Linked DNA regions of Homo sapiens: region 2 is linked to region 1. The links come from fine-mapping of genetic effects on gene expression. A gene starts in region 1. The other region holds a variant in brackets. All regions are shown on one strand. Distances are from middle to middle.

Region 1 (15,082 bases):
ACAGCGTGCACCACCATGCCTGGCTAATTTTTTTGTATTTCTGTACAGATGGGGTTTCACTACATTGGCCAGGCCGGTCTTGAACTCCTGAAGTCACGGTGGCCCGCCTTGGCCAACCAAAGTGCTGGGATTACAGGCATGAGCCATGACGTCTGGCTCACTTCAGGTTTTTACAGGCCATTTTGAGTTGATTTTTGTCTAAAGTGGGAACCTCAATTGTTCTTTGGGAACCACTGCTTCTCAGTCCAGGGAGTTCCCTCCTACCCAGGCAAGCATCCCAGATTCTATCCATCAATGTACTGTAAATCCAACTGAGAGGTGACAGCGTGCGGGCAGTCCTCATAGCCCTCGCTCGCTCGCTCTCGGCGCCTCCTCTGCCTGGGCTCCCACTTTGGCAGCACTTGAGGAGTGCTTCAGCCCACCGCTGCACTGTGGGAGCCCCTTTCTAGGCTGGCCAAGGCCGGAGCCGGCTCCCTCAGCTTGCAGGGAGGTGTGGAGGGAGAGGCGCCGGGAACCGGGGCTGCGCGTGGCGCTTGCGGGCCAGCTGGAGTTCCGGGTGGGCGTGGGCTTGGCGGGCCCCGCACTCGCCGCAGCCAGCCGGCCCTGCCGGCCCCGGGCAATGAGGGGCTTAGCACCCGGGCCAGCGGCTGTGGAGGGTGTACTGGGTCCCCCAGCAGTGCCAGCCCACCGGTGCTGCGCTTGATTTCTCGCCGGGCCTTAGCTGCCTTCCTGCGGGGCAGGGCTCAGGACCTGCAGCCCGCCATGCCTGAGCCTCCCACCCCCTCCGTGGGCTCCTGTGTGGCCCGAGCCTCCCCGATGAGCGCCGCCCCCTGCTCCATGGCGCCCAGTCCCATCGACCACCCAAGGGGTGAGGAGTGCGGGTGCATGGCGCGGGACTGGCAGGCAGCTCCATCTGCAGCACCGGTGCAGGATCCACTGGGTGAAGCCAGCTGAGCTCCTGAGTCTGGTGAGGATATGGGGAACCTTTGTATCTAGCTCAGGGATTGTAAATACACCAATCAGCACCCTGTGTCTAGCTCAGGGTTTGTGAATGCACCAGTGGACAATCTGTATCTAGCTACTCTGGTGGGGCCTTGGAGAACCTTTATGTCTAGCTCAGGGATTGTAAATACACCAATCGGCACTCTGTATCTAACTCAAGGTTTGTAAATACACCAATCAGCACCCTGTGTCTAGCTCAGGGTTTGTGAATGCACCAACGGACACTCTGTATCTAGCTACCCTGGTGGGGACTTGGAGAACCGTTGTGTCGACACTCTGTATCTAACTAATCTGGTGGGGACTTGGAGAACCTTTGTGTCTAGCTCAGGGATTGTAAACGCACCAATCAGCGCCCTGTCAAAACAAACCACTTGTCTCTACCAATCAGCAGGACGTGGGTGGGGCCAGATAAGAGAATAAAAGCAGGCTGCCCAAGCCAGCAGTGGCAACCCGCTTGGGTCCCCTTCCACACTGTGGAAGCTTTGTTCTTTCACTCTTTGCAATAAATCTTGCTACTGTTCACTCTTTGGGTCCACACTGCTTTTATGAGCTATAACACTCACCGCAAAGGTCTGCAGCTTCACTCCTGAAGCCAGCGAGACCACAAGCCCACTGGGAGGAACGAACAACTCCAGGCGCGCAATGAACAACTCCAGGCGCGCCGCCTTAAGAGCTGTAACACTCACCGCGAAGGTCTGCAGTTTCACTCCTAAGCCAGCGAGACCACGAACCCACCAGAAGGAAGAAACTCCAAACACATCTGAACATTAGAAGGAACAAACTCCAGATGCGCCACCTTAAGAGCTGTAACACTCACCGCGAGGGTCCACGGCTTCATTCTTGAAGTCAGTGAGAGACCAAGAACCCACCAATTCCGGACACATTTTGGCGACCATGAAGGGACTTTCGCCTATTGCCAAGCGGTGAGACAATCGCTGAGCAGTGAGACCATCACCTATTGCCGAGCGGTGAGACCATTGCCTATCGCCAAGCAGTGAGTACCATTGGACCCCTTTCGCTTGCTATTCTGTCCTATCTTTCCTTAGAATTCGGGGGCTAAATACCAGGCACCTGTCGGCCAGTTAAAAGTGACTAGCGTGGCCGCTGGACTAAAGACATGGGTGTCAGACTTTCTGGGAAAGAGCTCTCTAACAACCCCCGACTCTTCGGAGTTGGGACCGTTGGTTTGCCTAGAACCAGCTTCCGCTTTTCCTGTACTTCTGGGCTGAGCCGAGGGTCGACAGAGAGGAAGGCCATGCAGCTCTGGGGTCCTGACAACATGATGGTTGACCCCGCGGCCATGAGCAGAACTCTCAAAAGCATGTCGCCCAAGCGAGACCCGCCCATCTATCCTATCTATCCTGACCCTAGCCCCCTGGGTCCTAATGCCTGCCAGACAAACTTCCTCTTGCCTCCCTTCTCTGAGGTTAGACCCACTTCTAAAAATTGCTACCTGTCTCTGGTGCTTTTCTAGTTTCTCCGATAAGAATGATTTCTAGTATAAACTCCAGGACTCTGTTACCTTCTTTAGGCACCTGGGCTCACCAATCAGAAAGACATAATTTTTGCCCAAAGCCCCATCGTAGTGGGGACTACCTGGAATTTTAGGATCCCTCCTCACACTGACAGGCCTAACAAAAGCTATTCCTGAAGCTAGGATATGGGGAGCCTCAGAAATTGTATCCTTCCTATTCATATAAGTTAGGACAAAAGATGTCACTCTTCCAACCCTGGAGACCCCTTCCCTCCTTCAGGGTATGGCCCTCCACTTCATTTTTGGGGCATAACATCTTTATAGGACAGGGGTAAAGTCCCAATACTAACAGGAGAATGCTTAGGACTCTAACAGGTTTTTGAGAATGCGTCGGTAAGGGCCACTAAATCCGATTTTTCTCGGTCGGTCCTCCTTGTGGTCTAGGAGGACAGGCAAGGGTGCAGGTTTTCGAGAATGCGTCGGCAAGGACCACTAAATCCGACCTTCCTCGGTCCTCCATGTGGTCTGGGAGGAAAACTAGTGTTTCTGCTGCCGCGTCGGTAAGCGCAACTATTCCGATCAGCAGGGTCCAGGGACCGTTGCGGGTTCTTGGGCAGGGGTTGTTTCTGCTGCTGCGTCAGTGAGCGCAACTATTCCGATCAACAGGGTCCAGGGACTGTTGCGGGTTCTTGGGCAGGGGGAGAAACAAAACAAACCAAAACCGTGGGTGGTTTTGTCTTTCAGATGGGAAACACTCAGGCATCAACAGGCTCACCCTTGAAATGCATCCTAAGCCATTGGGACCAATTTGACCCACAAACCCTGAAAAAGAGGCGGCTCATTTTTTTCTGCACTGCGGCTTGGCCCCAATATTCTCTTTCTGATGGGGAAAAATGGCCACCTGCGGGAAGTACAAATTACAATACCATCCTGCAGCTTGATCTTTTCTGTAAGAGGGAAGGCAAATGGAGTGAAATACCTTATGCCCAAGCTTTCTTTTCATTGAGGGAGAATACACAACTATGCAAAGCTTGCCATTTACATCCCAAAGGAGGACCTCTCGGCTTACCCCCATATCCCAGCCTCCCTATAGCTCCCCTTCCTATTAATGATAATCCTCCTCTAATCTCCCCTGCCCAGAAGGAAATAAGCAAAGAGGTCTCCAAAGGACCACAAACCCCCCCGGGCTGTCAGTTGTGTCCCCTTCAAGTTGTAGGGGGAGGGGAATTTGGCCCAACCCGGGTACATGTCCCCTTCTCCCTCTCTGATTTAAAGCAGATCAAGGCAGACCTGGGGAAGTTTTCAGATGATCCTGATAGGTACATAGATGTCCTACAGGGTCTAGGGCAAACCTTTGACCTCACTTGGAGAGATGTCATGCTACTGTTAGATCAAACCCTGGCCTTTAATGAAAAGAATGCGGCTTTAGCTGCAGCCCGAGAGTTTGGAGATACCTGGTATCTTAGTCAAGTAAATGATAGAATGACAGCCGTAGAAAGGGACAAATTCCCTACCGGTCAGCAAGCCATCCCCAGTATGGATCCCAACTGGGACCTTGACTCAGATCATGGGGACTGGAGTTGTAAACATCTGTTGACCTGTGTTCTAGAAGGACTAAGGAGAATTAGAAAAAAGCCCATGAATTATTCAGTGATGTCCACCATAACTCAGGGAAAGGAAGAAAATCCTTCTGCCTTCCTCGAGCGGCTATGAGAGGCCTTAAGAAAATATACTCCCCTGTCACCCAAATCACTTGAGGGTCAATTGATTCTAAAAGATAAGTTTATTACCCAATCAGCTGCAGATATCAGGAGAAAGCTCCAAAAGCAAGCCCTGGGCCCTGAACAAAATCTAGAGACATTATTAAACCTGGCAACCTCGGTGTTCTATAATAGGGACCAAGAGGAACAGGTCCAAAAGGAAAAGCGAGATCAGAGAAAGGCCGCAGCCTTAGTCATGGCCCTCAGACAAACAAACCTTGGTGGTTCAGAGAGGACAGAACATGAAGCAGGCCAATCACCTGGTAAGGCTTGTTATCAGTGTGGTTTACTGGGACACTTTAAAAAAGATTGTCCAATGAGAAACAAGCTGCCCCCTCGTCCGTGTCCACTATGCTGAGGCAATCACTGGAAGGTGCACTGCCCCAGAGGATGAAGGTTCCCTGGGTCAGAAGCCCCCAGCCAGACGATCCAACAACAGGACTGAGGGTGCCTGGGGCAAGCGCCAGCTCATGTCATCACCCTCACTGAGCCCCGGGTATGTTTAACTATTGAGGGCCAGGAAATTGACTTCCTCCTGGACACTGGCGCGGCCTTCTCAGTGTTAATCTCCTGTCCTGGACGACTCTCCTCAAGGTCCATTACCATCCAAGGAATCCTGGGACAGCCTGTAACCAGGTATTTCTCCCACCTCCTCAGTTGTAATTGGGAGACTTTGCTCTTTTCACATGCCTTTCTTGTTATGCCTGAAAGTCCCACACCCTTATTAGGGAGGGATATATTAGCCAAGGCTGGAGCTATTATCTACATGAATATGGGGAACAAGTTACCCATTTGTTGTCCCCTACTTGAGGAGGGAATCAACCCTGAAGTCTGGGCATTGGAAGGACAATTTGGAAGGGCAAAAAATGCCCACCCAGTCCAAATCAGGTTAAAAGATCCCACCACTTTTCCTTATCAAAGGCAATATCCCTTAAGGCCTGAAGCTCATAAAGGATTACAGAATATTGTTAAACATTTGAAAGCTCAAGGCTTAGTAAGGAAATGCAGCAGTCCCTGCAACACCCCAATTCTGGAAGTACAAAGACCGAGACTAGTGCAAGATCTTAGACTCATTAATGAGGCAGTAATTTCACTATATCCAGTTGTACCCAAACCCTATACCCTGCTCTCTCAAATACCAGAGGAAGCAGAATGGTTCACAGTTCTGGACCTCAAGGATGCCTTCTTCTGTGTTCCCCTGCACTCTGATTCACAGTTCCTCTTTGCTTTTGAGGATCCCACAAACCACACATCCCAACTTACATGGATGGTCTTGCCCCAAGGGTTTAGGGATAGCCCTCATCTGTTTGGTCAGGCCCTAGCCAAAGATCTAGGCCACTTCTCAAGTCCAGGCACTCTGGTCCTTCAATATGTGGATGATTTACTTTTGGCTACCAGTTAGGAAGCCTTGTGCCAGCAGGCTACTCTAGATCTCTTGAACTTTCTAGCTAATCAAGGGTACAAGGTGTCTATGTCGAAGGCCCAGCTTTGCCTACAGCAGGTTAAATATCTAGGCCTAATCTTAGCCAAAGGGACCAGGGCCCTCAGCAAGGAGTGAATACAGCCTATACTGGCTTATCCTCGCCCTAAGACATTAAAACAGTTGAGGGAGTTCCTTGGAATTACCAGCTTTTGCCGACTATGGATCCCTGGATACAGCGAGACAGCCAGGCCCCTCTAATCAAGGAAACCCAGAGGGCAAATACTCATCTAGTTGAGTGGGAACCAGAGGCAGAAACAGCCTTCAAAACCTTAAAGCAGGCTCTAGTACAAGCTCCAGCTTTAAGCCTTCCCACAGGACAGAATTTCTCTTTATATGTCAGAGAGAGAGCCGGGATAGCTCTTGGAGTCCTCACTCAAACTCATGGGACAACCCCACAACCAGTGGCATACCTAAGTAAGGAAATTGATGTAGTAGCAAAAGGCTGGCCTCACTGTTTAAGGGTAGTTGCAGCAGTGGCCGTCTTAGCATCAGAGGCTATCAAAATAATACAAGGAAAGGATCTCACTGTCTAGACTACTTATGATGTAAATGGCATACTAGGTGCCAAAGGAAGTTTATGGCTATCAGACAACTGCCTACTTAGATACCAGGCACTACTCCTTGAGGGACCAGTGCTTCAAATATGCACATGCATGGCCCTCAACCCTGCCACTTTTCTCCCAGAGGATGGGGAACCAATCAAGCATGACTGCCAACAAATTATAGTCCAGACTTATGCCGCCCGAGATGATCTCTTAGAAGTCCCCTTAACTAATCCTGACCTTAACCTATATACTGATGGAAGTTCATTTGTGGAGAATGGGATACGAAGGTTAGTGATGTAACCATACTTGAAAGCAAGCCTCTTCCCCCAGGGACCAGTGCCCAGTTAGCGGAACTAGTGGCACTTACCCGGGCCTTAGAACTGGGAAAGGGAAAAAGAATAAATGTGTATACAGATAGCAAGTATGCTTATCTAATCCTACATGCCCATGCTGCAATATGGAAAGAGAGGGAGTTCCTAACCTCTGTAGGAACCCCCATTAAATACCACAAGGAAATTATAGAGTTATTGCACGCAATGCAAAAACACAAAGAGGTGGGAATCTTACACTGACAAAGCCATCAGAATAGGAAGGAGAGGGGAGAACAGCAGCATAAGCAGCTGGCAGAGGCAGCAGAAAGGAAAGAGACAGGAAGTCAAAGAAAGAGACAGAGAGGAAGAGACAAGAAGTTAGAGAGAAAGAGGGACAGACACAGAAAGTCAAAGAGAGGGTAAAAAAGAGAGGAAGAGACAAAGAAGAAGTCAAAGAGAGAGATGGAAGTAGTAAAGAAAAAACAGTGTACCTATTCCTTTAAAAGCCAGGGTAAATTTCTCTCTACCCAGCCAAGGCATATTCTCTTATGTGGATCTTCAACCCATATCTGCCTCTCAAAGTTGGAAGAAATAATGAAATCTATCCTTACTTTACAATCCCAAATAGACTCTTTGGCAGCAGTGACTCTCCAAAACCGCTGAGGCCTAGATCTCCTCACTGCTGAAAAAGGAGGACTCTGCACCTTCTTAGGGGAAGAGTGTTGTTTTTACACTAACCAGTCAGGGATAGCATGAGATGCCACCCAGCGTTTACAGGAAAAGGCTTCTGAAATCAGACGCCTTTCAAATTCTTATACCAACCTCTGGAGTTGGGCAACATGGCTTCTCCCCTTTCTAGGTCCCGTGGCAGCCATCTTGCTGTTACTCGCCTTTGGGCCCTGTATTTTTAACCTTCTTGTCAAATTTGTTTCCTCTAGAATCGAGGCCATCAAGCTACAGATGGTCTTACAAATGGAACCCCAAATGAGTTCAACTAACAACTTCTACCGAGGACCCCTGGACTGACCAGCTGGCACTTCCCCTGGCCTAGAGAGTTCCCCTCTGAAGGACACTACAACTGCAAAGCCCCTTCTTCGCCCCTATCCAGCAGGAAGTAGCTAGAGCAGTCATCGGCCAAATTCCCAACAGCAGTTGGGGTGTCCTGTTGATTGAGGGGAGACAGCATGCTGGCAGTCCTCACAGCCCTCACTCGCTCGCTCACTCTCGGCACCTCCTCTGCCTGGGCTCCCACTTTGGCAGCACTTGAGGAGCCCTTCAGCTCTGTATCTAGCTACTCTGATGGGTCCTTGGAGAACCTTTATGTCTAGCTCAGGGATTGTAAATACACCAATCAGCACCCTGTGTCTAGCTCAGGGTTTGTGAATGCACCAATGGACACTCTGTATCTAGCTACTCTGGTGGGGCCTTGGAGAACCTTTGTGTCAACACTCTGTATCTAACTAACCTGGTGGGGATGTGGAGAACCTTTGTGTCTAGCTCAGGGATTGTAAACGCACCAATCAGTGCCCTGTCAAACCACTCGGCTCTACCAATCAGCAGGATGTGGGTGGGGCCAGATAAGAGAATAAAAGCAGGCTGCCCGAGCCAGCAGTGGCAACCCGCTCAGGTCCCCTTCCACACTGTGGAAGCTTTGTTCTTTCGCTCTTTGCAATACATCTTGCTACTGCTCACTCTTTGGGTCCACACTGCTTTTATGAGCTGTAACACTCACCACAAAGGTCTGTAGCTTCACTCCTGAGCCAGCGAGACCACGAACTCACCAGAAGGAAGAAACTCCAAACACATCCGAACATCAGAAGAAACAAACTCCAGACGCACCACCTTAAGAGCTGTAACACTCACTGTGAGGGTCCATGGCTTCATTCTTGAAGTCAGTGAGACCAAGAACCCACCAATTCCGGACACACAACCGGCCATGTGACAGGCTCAGGGAAGGACATGTGACTCAAGGCAGGCCAGTGAAGTGCAATTCTAGGTTAGACTGGCCGGGAAGGAGCGGCCGTGTTTTCTGTTGATGGATGCTGCTGCCCTCTCCTCAACCTCTCACGCTCTGCACTACAGACAACCTCCTTGGGGCTGAGGCCAGCACAGCGCAAAGCACAGCAAGAGGGGAGCCCGAGCCCCTGGATCCAGCCATCCTCCACGGCAAGCTCAGACCACCCGCTCCCTCAGCTCTTTCACAGAACCCTGGTCTACCTAGTTGATGTCTTATATAATTCCACTATTATCTGTGATTAATTAATGTGGAACCACATGATTATCTGTGTGACCTGGTCTGAGGTCTCCCCTAGACTGAGCACCCCCTCTGGACGGCAGGTGAGCATCTGACCGGTCCACAGCTGTGGCCCCCACACAGCAGCTGGCACACACAGGGGCTCTGCATGTTAGACTCCTGCAGTAACACCCAGGGGCATGGGTGCGCCTTACTCCTCTCTGGGATCCCGGAGCCCAGCACAGCGTCAGCCAGGCACAGCAGAGAGAACAGGAGGTGCAGGCTGAGACAGGGCAGTGCAGTGCCTAAGAGTCTGGGCTGTGGAGTCTGAGAGCTCTGGTTCCAATCCCAGCGTGGGGCCCTTAGGCAAGGTGTCTCTCCTCCCTGAAAGCAGTCTCACCAGCCAGAGACAGTGTTGGCCCTGCCTTATGGGCTGTTGTGAGGGTGAGATGAATTGACTCCAAGTACTTGGCACCCAGGAAGTGTCCATTGCTGTGGGGCATGGCGTGACTGGAAGGAGGAGCCCCAGCCAGCGACCTGGAGTGGTCTGCCCAAGGTCAAGGCCCCAGTACAGCAGAAGCAAGAGCTCTAGAGCTGTCAAAGACCTTTATTCAGTCCTGGAGTGGAGCTGGCCTGACAGGGTGAAGCCAGGGGCTGCTTAGGGCGGGCCAGACCCTCAGCCCCTGAGCAGGTCAGGCCGGCCAGGCGGGGCTGGTAGGTACCAGGTGCCAGCAGCTGCAGGGCAAACTCAGTGATGACAGCTGTGAGGCCCCAGACCCGGTGTGGTCCATGCAGGAAGACGGGTAGTGTGTAGCGGAAGTGGCCACCCCGGCAGAAGTGGGTATAGCCCTGATTCTGCGTCTGCAGCAGGTGGGCCAGCGGCAGTGCAAACACCTCATCTACCTGCAGGCAGGAGGCAGAGAGGGTAGACAGAGGACTGGAACAGCCCAACCCCCTCATATCCCCCAGCTCACCTCCTCCGAGTTGGGCCTGAGGCTCTGGGGATCCAGTGGGCCTACACCAGCAAGCACTGGCACCACGGTGGCCTTTTGCTGGGGAAGAGGGCAGGTGGTCAGGGAAGCATGGCCTTCGCTGGGTTTGAAGGCTGGGGAGGGGAGTGTGAGAGGAAGACCCCTTTGCCATGCATAGGCCTTTGGTAGTCATGTTCGGGTCCACCTGCCTGTGTCCTCCAGCCATGCTGACTGACTCAGGTCCCCTCAAATGCACTAGACCTGTTCCCTCTGCTTAGGACAATCTCCCACTTGGCATTCAAGCCTGGGTTCAATCCCTGCCTACCCCATGAAGCTTCCCTGACCCTAATCCACCAAACTGAGTGGAGCTGGCCCACCCCATCGCCCTGGGCCACCTCTACTCAGGACACCAGAGCCTCCCCAATCCCTTCCCGAGGGGGTGTGTGGGGTGGTGCATGTGACCAGGCAGGTTAGGGGCACCCTTCCACACTTTGTGCCCGTGGGGGTCCATGACCACTCTCCTGGTCCCTGGTAGCCCAGCTCCAGGGCAGGCACAGAGTGAGTGAATGGGGTGGGGTGGCCTCAGCCAAGTGGCTTACCGGATCATACACAGGCCGCAGCAGGCCCCACACGTGCTCCTCGGGCACTGCCAGGCCCAGCTCCTCCCGGGTTTCCCGCAGGGCCGTGTGCACCACATCTTGGTCAGCCGGGTCGCACTTGCCGCCTGGGAAACTAAACAGACACAAGGAGTCTGGTCCTTGGACTCTTGGGGCCACGGAGAGGTCGGGGTATCGGCAGTGCGGGGGGGGCCACTGGCCCACCGAAGTGTCGCCTGCCTCTGCCCCTAGTTTACTGGGAGGCCCCAGGCAAGCCATGCGACCTCTGGAGGCCAGTTTACCTCCCTGAGCAATGGGGATAAGGAAGAGAGGCCCGGGACAGCGCAGGATAAGAGGGTCTGCAGCAGGGGCAAGAAGATCCTGGGGCTCAGATACCCAAATTCGGCCTATGGTGGCCCCAGCAACACTGACATTGTCCTCAGGATGTTCTTAATTCCCGCCGGGCGGGGCCCGAACCTCTCCGTAGTCGCCGGCAGGGGGCGGCGTCCGCCCTCTAAGCGGGAAACAGCTCAAAGGGGTGTCCCGGCCCAGGCGTGCGCGCAAGGACGCGTACGAGGGGCCCACGCGGCGAGGACGTGGCGCCCCGGCAGGTGCACCGGGGCCGACGGACACGGATCGCTGACCTCTCGCTGCAGCCCTTGGGCGGAGGGACTCTCCCCAGACCCATTTTACGGAGGCGGAAACCGAGGCTCGAAGGGGCTAAGTGCCCTGCCAGAGGTCCCTGCCAGCCCCGGGCTCCTGTAGCCTCCGGCAAAGGGCGAGGAGTTCCCGGCCGCTGTACCTGACGTCGCCCTTGTGCCTCCCGGTCAGGCGGCTGGACCGCAGCGTGTACAGCAGCGCCGGGACCCCACGCACTGAGCAGAGCGGCACGAGCACCGCGGCCGACGCGGGCCGCGCGCGGAGCCGGGCCGTGGCCCCTGCCAGCAGCCGGCGGCAGCGCAGCTCGCCCTCGGCCGACAGGCAGTCGGGCAGCATGTCAAGTCCTGCGCGGCCGGGACACTGAGGGCGCGGGATCGGGCGAGGGAAGAGGCGGGGCGAGGCGGGGCGGGGCGCTCAGCCCGGGTCCCTCCGAAAGCTGAGAGGGAGAAGGGGCAGCCCGCGCGACGCGTCCCGCCTGGGGGGCTGCAGAGCGGCAGCGGCGTCGGGGGGCCTCAGTGGGGTGGGTCTGTTCGTGGGCGGGGCCTTCCCGGAGACGGGGCCTCGGTGGGACTGGGTCTGTTCGGGGGCGGGGCCTGTTTGAAGGCGGGTCCTCGGTGGGACGGGGTCCGTTAGGGGGCGGGGCCTGTTTGAAGGCGGGGCCTCGGTGGGACGCGTTGAGTCCCCCGGATGGGAGGGACGGAGGGCGGCGGGGCGGGGCGGGGCGGGGCCTGCGCGGGAGCCGGACTCGGACGTTACTGCCAAAGGGCGGCGGGGCCTAGTAGGCAATCGAGGTTGGGGCGGGCTGGGGGCGGGGCCTGGACCGGAGCTTTTGCTACGAAGGACTGGGGGGCGTGGCCAGGAGGACTGTGCTTCCGGCAGGGCCGGGCCGTGGCCGGGGGTGTGGCCGCGGGGAGGGAGATGGGCGCGGAGCTGCAGGACCTGCCGGTTGTGTTCTCCGAGATCCTGAAACCACGCGAACCGTGAAGCGCCCGGCGACCGTCCTCGGTCCCGTTGGGTCCTGGCGTTGGGGTGTCTGATGAGGCCCCGCCGGCCCCCACTGGTCCGTCCCTCCCCTAGGGGCTCCAGGATGTACGGAGCCGGGATCCCACGGGGACGCCCCTCCAGGAACCCGAGGTCGATCGGTGCGCGAGAGGAGCGTCCGGCCCAGCCCTCCCTCCGGTCCTCCCTCCCGATACCGCTGGGTGGCGCGCGCCGCCCCCAGTCTTGTCTTCCCCTCTGGCTCCGTCGGACTCCAGCCCCAGGCCTTTGACCTCCTTGTCCCAGCGTCCAGAGCTCTTCTCCCTTCCTGCCTTGAGTCTTGACCGGATTCCCAAATCCCTCCCCCTTTCCTACCTCGGCCCCTGTGGTCACTGACCACCGTGGTTCTGCGCCCTTCCACCAGACCCTGGGCTTGGGGACCAGATGACCCCAGCCTTGCGCACAGCATTTAAACGTGGGGTGGCGGGTGTCCGCCATGCTCTGCTGTGTGACGTTGAGCAGGTCCCGCGCCTCTCTGAGCGCCAGTTTCGATCCTCATCTGGGCAAGTGCAGCCCTGCCACTGGGCTGGAGTCACCACTTTTAATATTACTGTGTGCTCCCAGGGATGCGGACGGCACTGGGCAGAGCTTCGGGATGCCTACAGGGCTGATGTGGGGACTATGATGGGTCTGGGAGTTCCTGAGGCCCCCACCCACCCTGACCACGACGACAGAAGTGCTCTGACCACTCATGCCAAATAGTTTAATGTTAGGGGGAAGGGAGAGGTAAGGCAGGGTTTTCGGGAGTTACCCCCAAAGCAAGAGGGCACAGTATTCAGGCTGCTGGGGTTGGGAGATAGAAGTCCTGGTTCCAAGCTTGCCATGGTCCCAGCCTTGCTGTGACCCTGGGCAGGTAGCCTCTTTCTCTAGACTTTCACCTACCCTGCTCTCCTTGAGACAGAGATGGGGCTGGAGGGGGCGGGGCAGAGGCTGATTCCCACACCCGGTGTAAGGTCCAGGGTAGCAGGGCTTCCCCCCAGGGCTTCTGGCATCACTGGGAGTCCTGGCCAGGCCCCAGGCACACCACAGTGGGGGACAGGAGCCCCAGCCCAGCTGGGAGAGGCAGGCCTCCTTGATCCCTATCAGCCCGGATGTTGGGGAGGGGGTATGGTGCTGGTCGGGTCCTTGGGATCCCTAGGTGGCTCGGGGCTCCAGAGTACAGGCTCTGATACGTGACAGGCCTGTAGGTGGCCGGGGCCAGCAGGACCTCAGGTGGGGGCAGCAGCTGATGATGGAGCCAAGCAGGGGTCTTGGAGGTGGAAGCTGAAGCTTTGTTGGGGTCTGAGGGAGGAAATGAGTGGACTCTGGGCCTCCCATCGCATCCTCATCCCTCATCCCAGGCCTGCCCTGGTCCCTTCCTGCTCCTCCTTCCCAAGTTACCTACCTCTCAGCCTTCGCCTTTGCTTTTCCCTCTGCCTGGAATTTCTTCTTCACCTTCTCCCTCTGTCCAAACCCTTCCCAGTCCTCCAAGGCCCAGCTTGAGAGCCACCTCCTGCAGGAAGCCTGCCTGGCACCCCCTGCCTGTGCTCTTTGCCCTGAGCCCCATATTGTCTTAGGCATGTCTGCTTCCCCCTCCGTGTGTCCACACAGGGGCCCTGTGGGTTCGCTGAGCTGCTGAAGCCCCTTCCTGGAGGTCCTGTCCCTTTGCCTTCCGCCCACTGTGTACACCTTAGTCCCACTATGTCTGCAGGCCTGGGGCCTTACCTTTCTCCCTGTCTGTGGCACCCTTCAGCACACAGGGACTGAGGCTGCTGTGACTCCGGGCTGGGACACTGAGCAGGGGCCGTGGGGCCACAGGCCTGAAAGAGCAAGCGAGAATGGGGGGAGGGGATCAAGGGGAAGAACCCAGGCCAGGGATCATGGCCAGCTTCAGATGGTGGGGCCCCAGGATGGGTCAGAGGGTGTGACCCTGAAACAAGGGTCAGGAACTGAGGCCTTAGGATATGCCTGGGGTGGGGGTGAGGGGCTAGGGTCAGGGTCAGACAGTACCAGGAGTCCAGGTCACTCTCTCTAAAGCCTTTGGCAAAAGGGTTGCTGGCGATTTTCAGCTGGGTGATCTGCAGGAGACAAAGTGCAGTTGTGGGCTGGCCATGAGCCAGGCTCAGCCACCTTGTCCTCCCGGGAACCGGCAGTCAGGAGGCCCTGGCACCTGGGCCTCTTGGCCCAGGAACTCTGAGCTGATAGGAGTGCGGGCAGGGCCTTGACTGATGGCAGATACTCAGGGCAAGTTGGGAGGGCAGTAGTCTGTGCCAGTGAGGGCTGCAAGCCTCAGGGCTCAGTCTCCACCCCTGTGAAATGGGCCTGCAGCGGGTGCTCCCGAGCTGGTTCACCCACCCTGTGGTTCTGATAGGCTGTCACTGCTGTGAACTGGGTCTCTGTGAAGATGAAGGACTTGAAGTTCTCCTGGGCATAGCGCTCACTGTCCTTGCGTGGGTCCACGAAGACCACGTGGAAACGGGGCTGGTAGCGGTGCATAGAGTTGAGAATGATCTGTGGAAGGGACAGAGCAGGGGTACAGGGGTGAGGCGGAGTACAGCGGACTCCCTGAGGCTGGAGTCCTTCCCTCCAAGCCGGGAGACTGCCCTGGGCCTGCCACCCTGTTCCTTTCATGGCAGCACAGGGTCTGAGCTGGAGAGGCTGCAGTTCCGTGTCAAAGGCCCCTTTGGATCATGGATCCTTGCCTCCATGTCCTCTCACACCCCACATCCCAGCTGCCACCCACTGCCTGTGTGCTGGCCCGTCACTGTCGCGTTCACCAGTTTCCTCGGTTGCCTCCTGGCCTGTCCCCTGTCCCCGCCTTACCCCTCTGTTCCTTCTCCACACAGCTGCCCGGGAAGCCACATCATATGCCCCCTGCTCCTAACCGTCCAGCGACTTCCACCCCACACGGTAAAAGCCAGAGCCCCCCGAAGTCAGCCCGACCCCTCAGGCATTCGCCTCCTTGGCTTCCCCTCCTGGCTCCACTCCGGCCCCATGGATGCGTCTTGCAATTCTGCCGGCCCAGGATTC
Region 2 (12,827 bases), 59 kb before region 1:
GGTCTCACTATGTTGCCCAGGCTGGCCTCAAACTCCTGTGATCCTCAAGTGATCCTCCCACCTCAGCCTCCCAAGTAGCTTGCAATAACTCCTATTATTTTAATGTCAATTCCTGGTAAAGGGGCTGGGTATGGTGGCTCATGCCTGTAATCCCAGCACTTTGGGAGGCCGAGGCAGGTGGATCACTTGAGTCCAGGAGTTCAAGACCAGCGTGGCCAATATGGCAAAACCCATCTCTACAAAAAATACACAAATTAGCCAGGCGTGGTGTTGTACGCCTGTAGTCCCAGCTACTGGGGAGGCTGAAGTGGAAGGATTGCTTGAGCTTGGGAGGTGAAGGTTGCAGTGAGCCGATGTAATGCTACTGCACTTCAGCCTGGGCAATAGAGTGAAAACCTCCTCTAAAAAAAAAAAATTCTGGTAAACAACTTAGGGATTGCCTCTTTTCTTTTTCCTTAAAAACCAGCTTCTAACTGCTGCTAATCAGAGTGTACATTTAGGGCAACTTGAGTCTGTGCTCCCAGGCGGCCACCCTCAGGCTTTAGACTCTATACTTAATAATATTTTCTGAATCTTGTTTTTGTTGTTGTTGTTGTTGTTTGTTTGTTTTTTTGAGACAGTCTCACTCTGTTGCCCACGTTGGAGTACAATGGCGCAATCTCGGCTCACTGCAACCTCTGCCTCCCAGGTTCAAGCGATTCTCCTGCCTCAGCCTCCCGAGTAGCTGGGATTACAGGCTCCTGCCACCTCACCTAGCTAATTTTTGTACTTTTAGTAGAAACGGGGTTTCATCATCTTGGCCAGGCTGGTCTTGAACTTCTGACCTTGTGATCCACCTGCCCTGGCCTCCCAAAGTGCTGGGATTACAGGCGTGAGCCATTGTGCTGGCCTGAATCTTGTTATTTAAAGTCGACATTTTGCACCCCAGATGGAACCTGAAGGGAGCCTCCAGCGATCCCACCGCTTCCCCAGCAACCAGAGCCTTGGTACCAGCATGAGCAACTTACTCACTTTACTTTGCCCAAGCCAGCAAGGATTTCTAATAAGGCCCCTCTCAGGGCCGAATTCCTCCCAGGTTTGGTTGTGAATTCAGACTTGCTTCAAGCTACACATATTCTTTACTCGGTGGGGTTGGAGTCAAAACTCTACTGAGAGGTGGGAGTTTCATCTGTTATTCTCTAGAGACTCTGCTGATCACATATTCATAATTTTCAGTTTTCTCCGAGGTTAAGATTTTGTTTGTCTTACTCATTAGAATTTGCAACCTTTTTTCTCATTTCAAATTTTGATCAGGGAGAAAATAGTTTCTCTCCGAAAAGAGAAAGTGAAATCTTTGTGGCTTCAGTGTCAAATCTGTAATCTTTCAAACTGGCCAGGTTCTGAGGCTCGGTTCAATGGTCTAAAACTGAGTGTTCCTCCTGAAGGCAAGATCCACATGAAAACATAGGCTGGATTTGTGTTTAACACTGTGGCGCGCCTCTTCATGCAAATATTTAGAAAACTGGTCATGCATAACTTGTGATGACCCAGCTTATAATGGCCAAAATGGAGGACTTTGAAATGCCTACATGAGTTCATCTGCATGCACAACTGGAAAAAGCTGGTTTTAGGAGCAGACAAATGGGGCCGGGCGTGGTGGCTCACGCCTGTAATCCCAGCACTTTGGGAGGCAGAGGCGGGCGGATCACTTAAGGTCAGGAGTTTGAGGCCAGCCTGGCCAACATGGCAAAACCCCATCTCTACTAAAAATACAAAAATTAGCCGGGCGTGGTGGCAGTCGCCTGTAATCCCAGCTACTTAGGAAGCTGAGGCAGGAGAATTGCTTGAACCCGCGAGGCAGAGGTTGCAGTGAGCCAAGATCACACCACTGTACTCCAGCACGAGACTCTGTCTCCAAAAAAAAGAACTAAACAAATGGAATGAGCGACTTACTTCCAATAGCACCTAGAAGCTTCTAAAAGACATTCTGAGAGAAAAAATTGCCTCCATTCAAGAGGTAAACAAAAGGATATTTGAAACTAGTTCTAAATTAAGAAAGACTTCGGAGGCTTTTTCTCTTTCTCCTCCAGCTGCCCCTTCGTCCTCTCCCCTGCGATCTGAACTCACCTCTCTCTGCTAGTTCCCTCGGCTCCCATACATCTCTCAGGCAGAGATTTTTGGAATTCCACAATACACACATTTCCTTCTCTCCAAAGGGGGGAATGTGTCTAAATTTGGAACAAAGGAAACAAATGGAACCACTTCACAATGAGAATGACTTACTAACATTATAAAATACAGATCCAACATTTTTTTTTCTCTAAACAAGGATGAATGAATGACACTGATGATTTATTGACCCAATATCGGACAATACCCTTTAAAAGCCCTGCTGGACTTCACAGTCCCTTGGAGATGTAAATCTTACCAGGTATTTGAAATGTTAACTTCCAGGGAATTGGCTAAGCCATGTTCTAGTTGAGATCAGATCTGAAACAAGTTAAAATCCTTTACATGTTCAAACTGCCTGCTTTGCTTCTGCTGCAGGCCTCACAAAGCAATGGGATCTGGTGGCTATGATTCCGGGCATTCACAGCGGCAGCCCGGGTTGGACTCCTGGTCAGGGAACCAGTCTTGTTTGTTTTAAATTATTGGAGTGACTCTTCACCTTTTGGGTAGCCATTTGTTATTGGTCCTCGTCCTTCCCATGGGCAGCTTCCGATTTCCTGTTTTTTCCCATCTGTGGGGCATATGGGGATTTTGAGCCTTTATGCATAGGTGGTCGGCTGAGAAGGTGACATCCTGGAATATGGCTGGACAGAAATGTGGGTCACGCTCCATTTGCAGCTTGTGATGTCAGAGGCATTTGAACCAGAGCAATTCCATCTTGAATGACCTACTGGGCTGCATTCCCAGACGGTTACGGAATTCTGAGTCACAGGATGAGATAGGAGGTTGGCACAAGATACAGGTCATAAAGACCTTGCTGATAAAACAGTTTGCAGTAAAGAAGCCGGCCAAACCCCACCAAAACGAAGATGGCGGCGAGAGTGACCTCTGGTCGTCCTCACTGCTACACTCCCATCAGCACCGTGACAGTTTATAAATGCCATGGCAACGTCAGGAAGTTACCCCATATGGTCTAAAAAGAGGAGGCATGAATAATCCACCCCTTGTTTAGCATATCATCAAGAAATAACCATAAAAATGGGCAACTAGCAGCTCTCGGGGCTGCTCTGTCTATGGAGTAGCCATTCTTTTATTCCTTTACTTTTTTAACAAATTTGCTTTCACTTTACTCTATGGACTCACCCTGAATTATTTCCTGCGTGAGATCCAAGAACCCTCTCCTGGGTCTCGATCGGGACCCCTTTCCAGTAACAGTGAGACTTTTCCTTCTTTGAGCTGTCTTTAGGGTGGTTCTGGATCTCGTGAGGATCACTTTGCACTTCTTTGGAGATGTCTTGTGTGTTCTTGGCTAAGTCATAACCTTGGTTAAGGGTTACTGGTTTTGGTGAGTCACTTGAAAAGGAACTTTTTTTTTTTAAGGTGAATTAAATGTTCATAAATGATAGGCCTTCAGGTAAAGTAGCCTTTCTTCTTTTTCAGAGCTATCCATGCTGAGTCCAGGCATGGAGAATGCTTTCTTTGCTTCAGGGTGAAGCTCTTTAATAAGCTTCACCCTGAAGTCAGTTATGTGATCAAGAAACAAGCTAAGACCGGGCACGGTGGCTCATGCCTGTGATCCCAGCATTTTGGGAGGCCAAGGCAGATGGATCATCTGAGGTCAGGAGTTCGAAACCAGCCTGGCCAACATGGTGAAACCCCGTCTCTACTAAAAATACAAAAATTATCCAGGCATGATGGTGGGTGCCTGTAATCCCAGATACTTGGGAGGCTGAGGCAGGAGAATCACTTGAACCTGGGATGTGGAGGTTGCGGTGAGGCAAGATCATGCCATTGCACTCCAGCCTGGGCAATAAGAGCAAACCTCCATCTCAAAACAACAACAACAACAACAAAAAAAAACAATTAGCCAGGCACGGTGGTGCACGCCTGTAATCCCAGTTACTCAGGAGGCTGAGGCAGGAGAATTACTTGAACCCTGGGGAGGCAGAGGTTGCAGTGAGCCAAGATTGCACCACTACACTCTAGCCTGGGTGACAGAGCAAGACTCTATCTCAAAAACAAACAAACAAACAAACAAACAAACAAACAAAAAACCGAAAACAAAAAACAAAAAACCCCAAAACCAAAATCAAAAACTCTGCTTCTTCTGTGTGTCTTTACACCTCTATATCTATATATAGATATATAGATTTTTCTTTTTGAGACAGAGTCTCACTCTGTCGTCCAGGCTGGAGCGATCTCGGCTCACTGCAACCTCTGCCTCCCGGGTTGAATTGATTCTTCTGCCTCAGCCTCCTGAGTAGCTGGGACTACATATGTGTGCCACCACGCCTGGCTAATTTTTGTATTTTTAGTAGAGATGGTGTTTCACCATATTGGCCAGGCTGGTCTCGAACTCCTGACCTTGTGATCAGCCCGCCTCGGCCTCGCAAAGTGCTGGAATTACAGGCATGAGCCACCGCACCCGACCACGTCTATATATTTTTATATGTCATGTGTTTGTGATATTTCACCGCCAAAATATATGAAAGAGCTCCAATTAATTAGCTTACGGTAAAAGAAAGTGTTTTAATCAAATGTTTCATCAGGAAAACAGAAACTAACTCAAAAATCTTTTAGTTCACATGACTTGGGTACATTTTTGGTAAATAAGACTAGTTCAATATTGTTGGCTTGGCTGGGCATGGTGGCTCATGCCTATAAACCCAGGACTTTAGGGGGCCGAGGCTAGAGGATCACTTGAACCCAGGAGTTTAAGACCAGTCTGGGCAACATAGCGAGATTGTGTCCCTACCAAAAAAAAAAAAAAAAAATTAGCCAGGCACAGTGGTGTGCACCTGTAATTCCAGTTACTCAGGAGGCTGAGGTAGGAGGATAGCTTGAGCCCAGGAGACTGAGGCTTCAGTGAGCCATGATCATGCCACTGCACTCCAGCCTGGATGACACAAAAAGATCCTGTCTCAAAAAGGTGAGATCCTGGAATGTGGCTGGACAGAAATGTGGATTGGAACCCATTTGCAGCTATAATAAGATAGTTGGCTTAATAAAAACAGCTCTCAGAGAGAATAAGAAAACAAAAAACAAAACAAACCAAAAAACCAGCTCTGTCTTCTGATCAGCAAAATACCCATGTATGTAAGCTGAGATTGCGCCACTGCACTCCAGCCTGGGAGATGGAGCGAGACTCCTTCTCAAACAAAAAACCAAAAACTGACAAGGGGGAAAGTAAAGTAAATTTATGTTCGAAAGTTGAATGCCAACATTCAACAGAGCTCTTAGGTGATGACTGCCTAACATTTGAAGGCTATAAAAATGATTAAGAAAGAAAGAACTTAGGAGGATGGTGAGCTTTGTTTATTGAAATATTCAAGCATAATTGTTGAGAATGAATAAATTAAATAAATGTCAATGGGGTAAAAGTTTAAAAAGGAACTTTTCATAGTTTCAAACATCTTTTGCAGAAACTTAATGCCGTTATGTTAACGACATATTAAGTAATTCATCATCATAAAATGTCTGAGTTGTTTATATGGTATAGAAAAACTAAATATATTTAGATCTGTTAATAAACAAAAAACCAATAAAACATTTTTCTAAAAATATTATGAAATGGTTTTCATCTACAAATACCGGTATAAAACAGTTTAAGGCCGGGCACGGTGGCTCACACCTGTAATCCTAGCATTTTGGGAGGCCGAGGCGGGTGGATCACTCGGATCAGGAGTTCGAGACCAGCCTGGCCAACATGGTGAAACCCCGTCTCTACTAAAAACATACAAAAATTAGCCAGGCATGGTGGTGGGCGCCTGTAATCCCAGCTAGTCAGGAGGCTGAGTCAGGAGAATCGCTTGAACCTGGGAGGCAGAGGTTGTGGTGAGCTGAGATCACGCCATTGCACTCCAGCCTGGGCGACAGAGCAAGACTCCGTCTCAAAAACAAACAAACAGAAAGAAACAGTTTAAAATGACATACTTCCTAGGTTTTTCACTGCAAATTAGGATTACTAAGAGTTAAAATTTGGCAGGGTGCAGTGGCTCACGTCTGTAATCCCAGCACTTTGGGAGGCCGAGGTGGGTGGATCACGAGGTCAGGAGATCGAGACCATCCTGGCCAACATGGTGAAACCCCATCTCTACTAAAATACGCAAAAAAATTAGCCGGGCATGGTGGCGCATGCCTGTAGTCCCAGCTACTTGGGAGGCTGAGGCAGGGGAATTGCTTGAACCTGGGAGGCAGAGGTTGCAGTGAATGGAGGTTGCACCACTGCACTCCAGTCTGGTGACAAAGCGAGACTCCATTAAAAAAAAAAGACTTAAAATTTTAGTTAATATATGTAAGTAAAAATACTAACTATAACAGAAACAATTCTATCTATAGAGTGTATACAGAAAGTAAGACATGTTTTTGGTTGGAAGGCTGAGGCAGGAGGATTGCTTGAGCCCAGGAGTTTGAGGCTGCAGTGAGCTATGATCATGTCACTGCACTCCAGCCTGGGTGACAGAGTGAGAACTGGTCTAGAAAAAAAAATGTGTTTTTGGTAAATAAGTTGAAAAGAGGGAATATGCTTTTCTTTTGCATGAGAAAACTCTGTGTGGTTAAACTGACAAGGGGGAAAATAGGTCGAGCATGGTGGCTCACGCTTGTAATCCCAGCACTTTGGGAGGCCAAAGCGAGTGGGTCACTTGAGGTCAGGAGTTCGAGACCAGCCTGGCAAACATGGTGAAACACTGTCTCTACTAAAAATACAAAAATGAGCTGGGCATGGTGGCACACACCTGTAATCCCAGCTACTCAGGAGGTGGAGGCATGAGAATCGCTTGAACCCAGGAGGTGGAGGTTGCCGTGAGCCGAGATTGTGCCACTGCACTCCAGCCTGGGAGACACAGCGAGACTCCATCTCAAACAGAAAAACCAAAAACTGACAAGGGGGAAAGTAAGGTAAATTTTTGTTCTAAGATTGAATGCTAACATAAAAAAGGGAGTATAGGATAAAACTGAAGGTTTAAGCAAGTCGTAGATTTACAGGAGATTAATCTCATGAGAGAAATTTTGTGTGTGATCAAGTTGGTTAAAATTGGAAGGGAATTATTTATAAGTTTTTCTAAAAAGCGAGCATTAATATCAAAAGCACTGATGCAAGGCCAGAGGCTGAGCCTGTGTCGGAACAACAGGGTTTTCGCTCAGCAGTGACCTGCTCTTTAATAGAAAATCCCAAGAGGTAAAGAAAGATTTATGGAAATCTTACCTTGTGTGGTCAAAGCTGACTGAGATTGGTTGAATTTGTTTGTAATATTTTATTAAAATTGGCTTTCATATTGATAATACATTAGTATAAGGTAAAATTTGGTTTTCTCCTTTGAACAAGAATTTAGCGTTGTATTAATAAGAGATACTAGGCCGGGCGCGGTGGCTCATGCCTATAATCCCAGCACTTAGGGAGGCCGAGGCTGGCGGATCACGAGGTCAGGAGCTCGAGACCAGCATGACTAACATGGTGAAACCCCATCTCTACTAAAAATACAAAAATTAGCCGGGCGTGGTGGCGGGTACCTGTAATCCCAGTTACTCGGGAGGCTGAGGCAGGAGAATCTCTTGAACCTGGGAGGCGGATGTTGCAGTGAGCCGGGATCACACCACTGCACTCTATCTTGGCTGACAGAGCAAGAATCCATCTCAAAAAAAAAAAAAAAGAGATAGTGAAAGATTTGTTTACCTTTTGAATAAACTGCAAAAAAAAAAAAAAATGAGTGGGAGAGTTTGCCTCAGGCTATCTTTATTGGGTATTTAAATTGTTTAGGAAACTGAGTCTCCTCTCTAATCCAAGAGTAAAGTTTTTTGCTTTTTGAAATCTTTGAGTTATCATTTTGGCTAAATTAATAACTTTTTAAAAAAATTTTCTTAGAGGCCAGGCATAGTGGCTCACGCCTGTAATCCCAGAACTTTGGGAGGACGAGGCAGGTGGATCACTTGAGGTCAGGAGTTCAAGACCAGCCTGACCAACATGGTGAAACCTGGTCTCCACAAAAATTAGCTGGGCATGGTGGTGCATGCCTGTAATCCCAGCTACTCAGGAATTACAGGCAAGCTGAGGCAGGAGAATCACTTGAACCCGGGAGGTGGAGGTTGCAGTGAGCCAAGATCGCACCACTGCACTCTATCCTGGGTGACAGAGTAAGACTCCGTCTCAAAAAAAAAAATATTTTTTCTTAGAGATGGGGGCTCACTTTGTCACCAGGCTGGAGTGCAGTGGCAAGATCATAGCTCACTGCAGCCTCAAGCTCCTGGGCTCCAGGGATCCTTCTGCCTCAGCCTCCCGATTAGCTAATAATATTAGCCTGGGCAACATAGTGTGACCCTGTCTCTATTTAAAAAAAATTTTAAATATTAGCAAGGCTGGCTAATATTTGACTTTTTTGTTTTTATAGAATCAGAGTCACACTATGTTGCCCAGGCTGTTCTCAAACTCCTAGGCTCAAGTGATCCTTCTGCCTTGCCTCCCAAAGTGCTAGAATCACAGGCATGAGCTACTGCACCTGGCCTAAATTAATGACTTTTATTTTATAGTAACCTGTATCCTATTTTGATTATGTGTTTTAAACCTTACTTATTTTATTTATTTATTTAATTTTTTTTTGAGATGGAGTCTTGCTCTTGTTGCCCAGGCTGGAGTGCAGTGGCGCGATCTC[G/A]GCTCACCACAAGCTCCACCTCCCAGATTCACGCCATTCTCCTGCCTCAGCCTCCTGAGTAGCTGGGACTACAGGCGCCCGCCACCACGCCCGGCTAATTTTTTTGTATTTTTAGTAGAGATGGGGTTTCACCGTGTTAGCCAGGATGGTCTCGATCTCCAGACGTCGTGATCCGCCCGCCTCGGCCTCCCAAAATGCTGGGATTACAGGCGTGAGCCACTGTGCCCGGCCAAACCTTACTTATTTTAATATCAAGTGTTTTGAACCTTTAATATTTGACATACTTCCAAAAATTAAATTTCAAAATTTTTGTTTTTTTTGAGACAGTTGTTTCACTCTGTTGCCCAGGCTGGAGTGCAGTGGCGTGATCTCAGCTCACTGCTACTTCTGCCTCCTGGGTTCAAATGATTCTCCTGTTTCAGCCTCTTGGTAGCTGGGACTACAGGTGCACACCAACATGGCTGGCTAATTTTTGTATTTTTGGTAGAGGCGGGGTTTCACCATGTTGGCCAGGCTGGTTTTGAACTCCTGACCTCAAGTGATCCACCCGCCTCAGCCTCCCAAGGTGCAGGGATTACAGGGGTGAGCCACCACACCTGGGCACCTAATTTAAATTTCAAATTTAGAAAAATTTTTGACATATTTCCCAAAGTTAATTAAGTCTTTTTTTATCTGAACTATCTTGGACACAAGAAATAGGAGCCCTTGGAAGTCCAAGAGAGAAATACTGGGCTTATTTGGTATGTTAAAATCATATACGGAGCATTGTCAAATAAGAAATGGTGTTTAACTTTCTTTTTTTTGAGATGGAGTCTCGTTCTGTCGCCCAGACTGGAGTGCAGTGGCACAATCTCGGCTCACTGCAACCTCCACCTCCCAGGTTCAAGCAATTCTCCTGCCTCAGCCTTCTGAGTAGCTGGATTACAGGCGCACCCCATCACACCCAGCTAATTTTTGTATTTTTAGTAGAGATGGGGTTTTGCCATGTTAATCAGGCTGGTCTCGAACACCAGACCTCGTGATCCACTCGCCTTGGCCTCCCAAAGTGCTGGGATTACAGGCATAAGCCACCACGCCCAGCTGGTGTTTAACTTTCTTTGAGTTATATTTCTATAAATGTGTTATTAATATGTGTTCCAAAATTGTATGAGATTCTTAAAATGACATGTCTCGGTATATGTTTTCAGTGATAATGTTGTTAAATTTTTGTATGTCACAGAAATAACCAAGTTTCCTTGTCAGTTGCATCTTTAACCATGGCTAGTCTAAGTTTTTTGTCATCCACAGACAATTATTGTTTTACTTTGATTCTCAAAAATTAGTTTATAATCAGCTACAGTCCAAAATTTGCTTCTTAAGGAAATTCACAGAAAACGATGCTGAAAAGTACTCTTGAGTATAGGTTTCCAGTAAATTTATTTATTAATTAAATATTTGTTTGCTTGTGTATGTTTTTTGAGACAGGGTCTCACTCTGTCACCCAGGCTGGACTGCAGTGGTGTGAACATGTCTCACTGCAGCCTCAACCTCCTGGGCTCCAGCAATCCTCCTACCCTAGCCTCCCGAGTAGCTGGGACTACAGGCATGCACCATCACGCTTGGCTAATTTTTAAATTTTTTGTACAGTCTTTCTGTGTCACTCAGGCTGGTCTCAAACTCCTGACCTCAGGTGATCCTTTTGCCTTGTCCTTCCAAAGTGCTGGTAAGATAGGAGAACAGGGAATTAGGGTAACAAAGGGTTAAGGCATAAGCAAAAAACAGCAGGGGCAGCCAGTTCTAGGCAAGATTAGGCAGCACGCAGGCCACGTCCTCACTCCTGTGATAACAAGACAGGAGTCTCCACTTCTGCCTCCGATTGACCACAGGCAGGGTCTGCACTTCAGCCTCTGATTGGTCACGGGCCAATCGCTTACAGGGTGTAACCAATTGGAAGCCTCTGCAGGGCACCTATGGTGTTACCAAATTCTTTTGGCTTAATAAAAACCCTGAAGCATATTGTAATTGGGGCTGCTTGAGCCTGCTCCCACTCTGTGGAGCGTACTTTTGCTTTAATACATCTATGCTTTCATCTTCTGTTGCTTTGTGCATTTTGTTCAGTTCTTTGTTCAACACGCCAAGAACCTGGACAACTCACAGTCAAGACTTTCCATCTGGTAACACTGGGACCACAGTCACGAGCTACCGCACCCTGCTCTGGTAACTTTAGAGATCATACCACTGAACTAAGTAAAAACTTCCAGAACCCTAATAAAGAACTGATGCATTCATGAAGATTGTGAACACAACATCAAGCAGAACGAGAATTAATTACGTAGGACAGAACCGATAGGGGACTAAAATGATTTTTATGACTTTTGTTTGTTTGAAACGTTGCTGATTCTTTTTATATTTTGTTTTCTAGAAACAAGAAAACTTTTTCTTTTGAGCTATTTATAACTCACAGCCATTGGGCAAAGTATACTTTTGTGAGCAAAATTGAAATATTTACCTTTCTCTCTACCTGATTTCTCCAAAATTTGGACACTATTTGTGACGATTCTTATTTTATTGCAATACAGTTATTTGCATAAGTTCAGTAAGACTATGTTTTCTTTTGTAACTGGGCACACTGAAGACACTCGTAATTTTACCAAGGCTTTGACTGTACTGGCATATTTTCAGATACAGCCAGACTGTTTTGAGGAGTTGAGGCTGATTTTATAGAGCCAGTAAAAAGTCCCTTGGAGAGATTGGTCTGGTACCTGGTTTTTATGGTTCCCTTACAAGCTTCCTGACCTTGTGGTGTGGGCGGCAAGCCACCCACGTGCCGAGGCAAGAGACGGAAGGCATGAGCTCTTCCAGCATAATAAAGAAAATAATTAGAATAAGAATAGTTATACTAGAAATAGAATATAGACATGATTATATATGAATATTATCAATCATTAGTTTGTAGCATTACTCTTTATTATATTAATCTCTGTTCTATAATTATTACCTGTTCTATACTTATTACCTAAGGAAAACCAGGCCATACAGAATTAGGAGCTGAAGGGACACGGTGAGAAGTGACCAGAAGGCAAGAATGTGAGCCCTCTGTCAAGCCCGCACAAGGGCCACTAGAGGGCTCCTTGGTCTAGCAGTAACGCCAGTGCCTGGGAAGGCACCTGTTACTTAGCAGACTGGGAAAGGGAGTCTCCCTTTCCCCCAGGGAGTTAGAGAACACTCTGCTTCACCACCTCCTGTGGAAGGCCTGCCATCAGCCAGGCCTGCCCGCAGCCATCCGGAGGCCTAAATGTCTCCCTGTGATGCTGTGCTTCAGTGGTCACGATCCTGGTCCACTTTCATGTTCCGCTCTGTGCACCTGGCCCCGCCTTCTAGATAGCAGTAGCAGAATTAGTGAAAGTATTAAAGTCTTTGATCTTTCCGAGAAATGCATAGAAGAAATAATGACGTAAGCTGTCCCCTCTCTCTCTCCGCCTCGGCTACCAAACAGGGAATGGCCCCGTTCGGTGGACACATGACTCGCGTGACCTTACCCTTACATTGGACTTTACATTGGAGATGACTCACGCTCCTTACCCTGCCCTCTTGCCTTGTATACAATAATTATCAGCGCGGCCAGGCATTTGGGCCTTCGCGTCTTGGTGGTAGTGGTCCCCCAGGCCCAGCTGTCTTTTCTTCTATCTCCTTGTCTTGTGTCTTTATTTCTACAATCTCTCGTCTCCGCACACGAAGAGAAAAACCCATAGGCCCTGTAGGGCTGGACCCTACATTGTGGTAAGGAAAGAATGTCACTTTCTGACAAGCCCAGGAACCTCAAGATATTTGGGACCTTGAGAAGAGAGGAATTCACCCAATTCATACAGGTACTACAGGCACAGGCTGATCATGAATCCATGGGTTGGCTTCAAAGCCTGGGGAGGCTTTCAAAAGTCCAACCTGAGATTCTTCATGAAAAAGCTCCAGCAAAGCCAATTTAAAAGAGCCTGTATGGCCATTCACTATTCTCATTGCACTTTTTACAAATAATCAGGCCAAGTATAATACTAA

Direction of the effects. Positions count from the first base shown, and alleles are read on the strand shown. Sizes are in standard deviations (SD) of each study's normalised expression.
For the expression in prefrontal cortex of the gene that starts at base 11,397 in region 1, A is the high allele of the variant in region 2 and G is the other (large effect, 1.4 SD a copy in GTEx).

What was found. PIP is the estimated chance that this variant, and not a neighbour inherited with it, causes the effect. A credible set is the group of variants that fine-mapping cannot tell apart.
Region 2: its variant is the best candidate, but not a certain one, in a credible set for the expression of NUDT8 in prefrontal cortex (GTEx, PIP 0.89).

What each region holds. Positions count from the first base shown.
Region 1 is chr11:67,618,541-67,633,622 of GRCh38, forward strand. It overlaps NUDT8 (nudix hydrolase 8), which reads right to left and starts at 11,397. Exons shown (of 4, transcript NM_001243750.2): 1 at 11,178-11,397; 2 at 10,379-10,511; 3 at 9,783-9,860; 4 at 9,398-9,711. The coding sequence starts at 11,371. The coding sequence ends at 9,406. It overlaps TBX10 (T-box transcription factor 10), which reads right to left. Exons shown (of 8, transcript NM_005995.5): 5 at 14,408-14,563; 6 at 14,063-14,130; 7 at 13,778-13,872; 8 at 12,763-13,354. The coding sequence ends at 13,065. It overlaps LOC124902696 (a long non-coding RNA gene), which reads left to right and starts at 1,399. Exons shown (of 2, transcript XR_007062741.1): 1 at 1,399-1,996; 2 at 7,514-8,853. RefSeq lists enhancers at 481-1,354, 7,073-7,602, 13,426-13,955, 14,484-15,013, 15,014-15,082 and 2 more and silencers at 9,938-10,232, 10,800-10,949, 11,240-12,029, 12,150-12,319.
Region 2 is chr11:67,560,958-67,573,784 of GRCh38, forward strand. No RefSeq gene overlaps it. Among named protein-coding and RNA genes, the nearest start is that of GSTP1, 16 kb to the right of the region's middle. RefSeq lists an enhancer at 2,027-3,226. The variant G/A (reference allele first, on the strand shown) is at 8,796.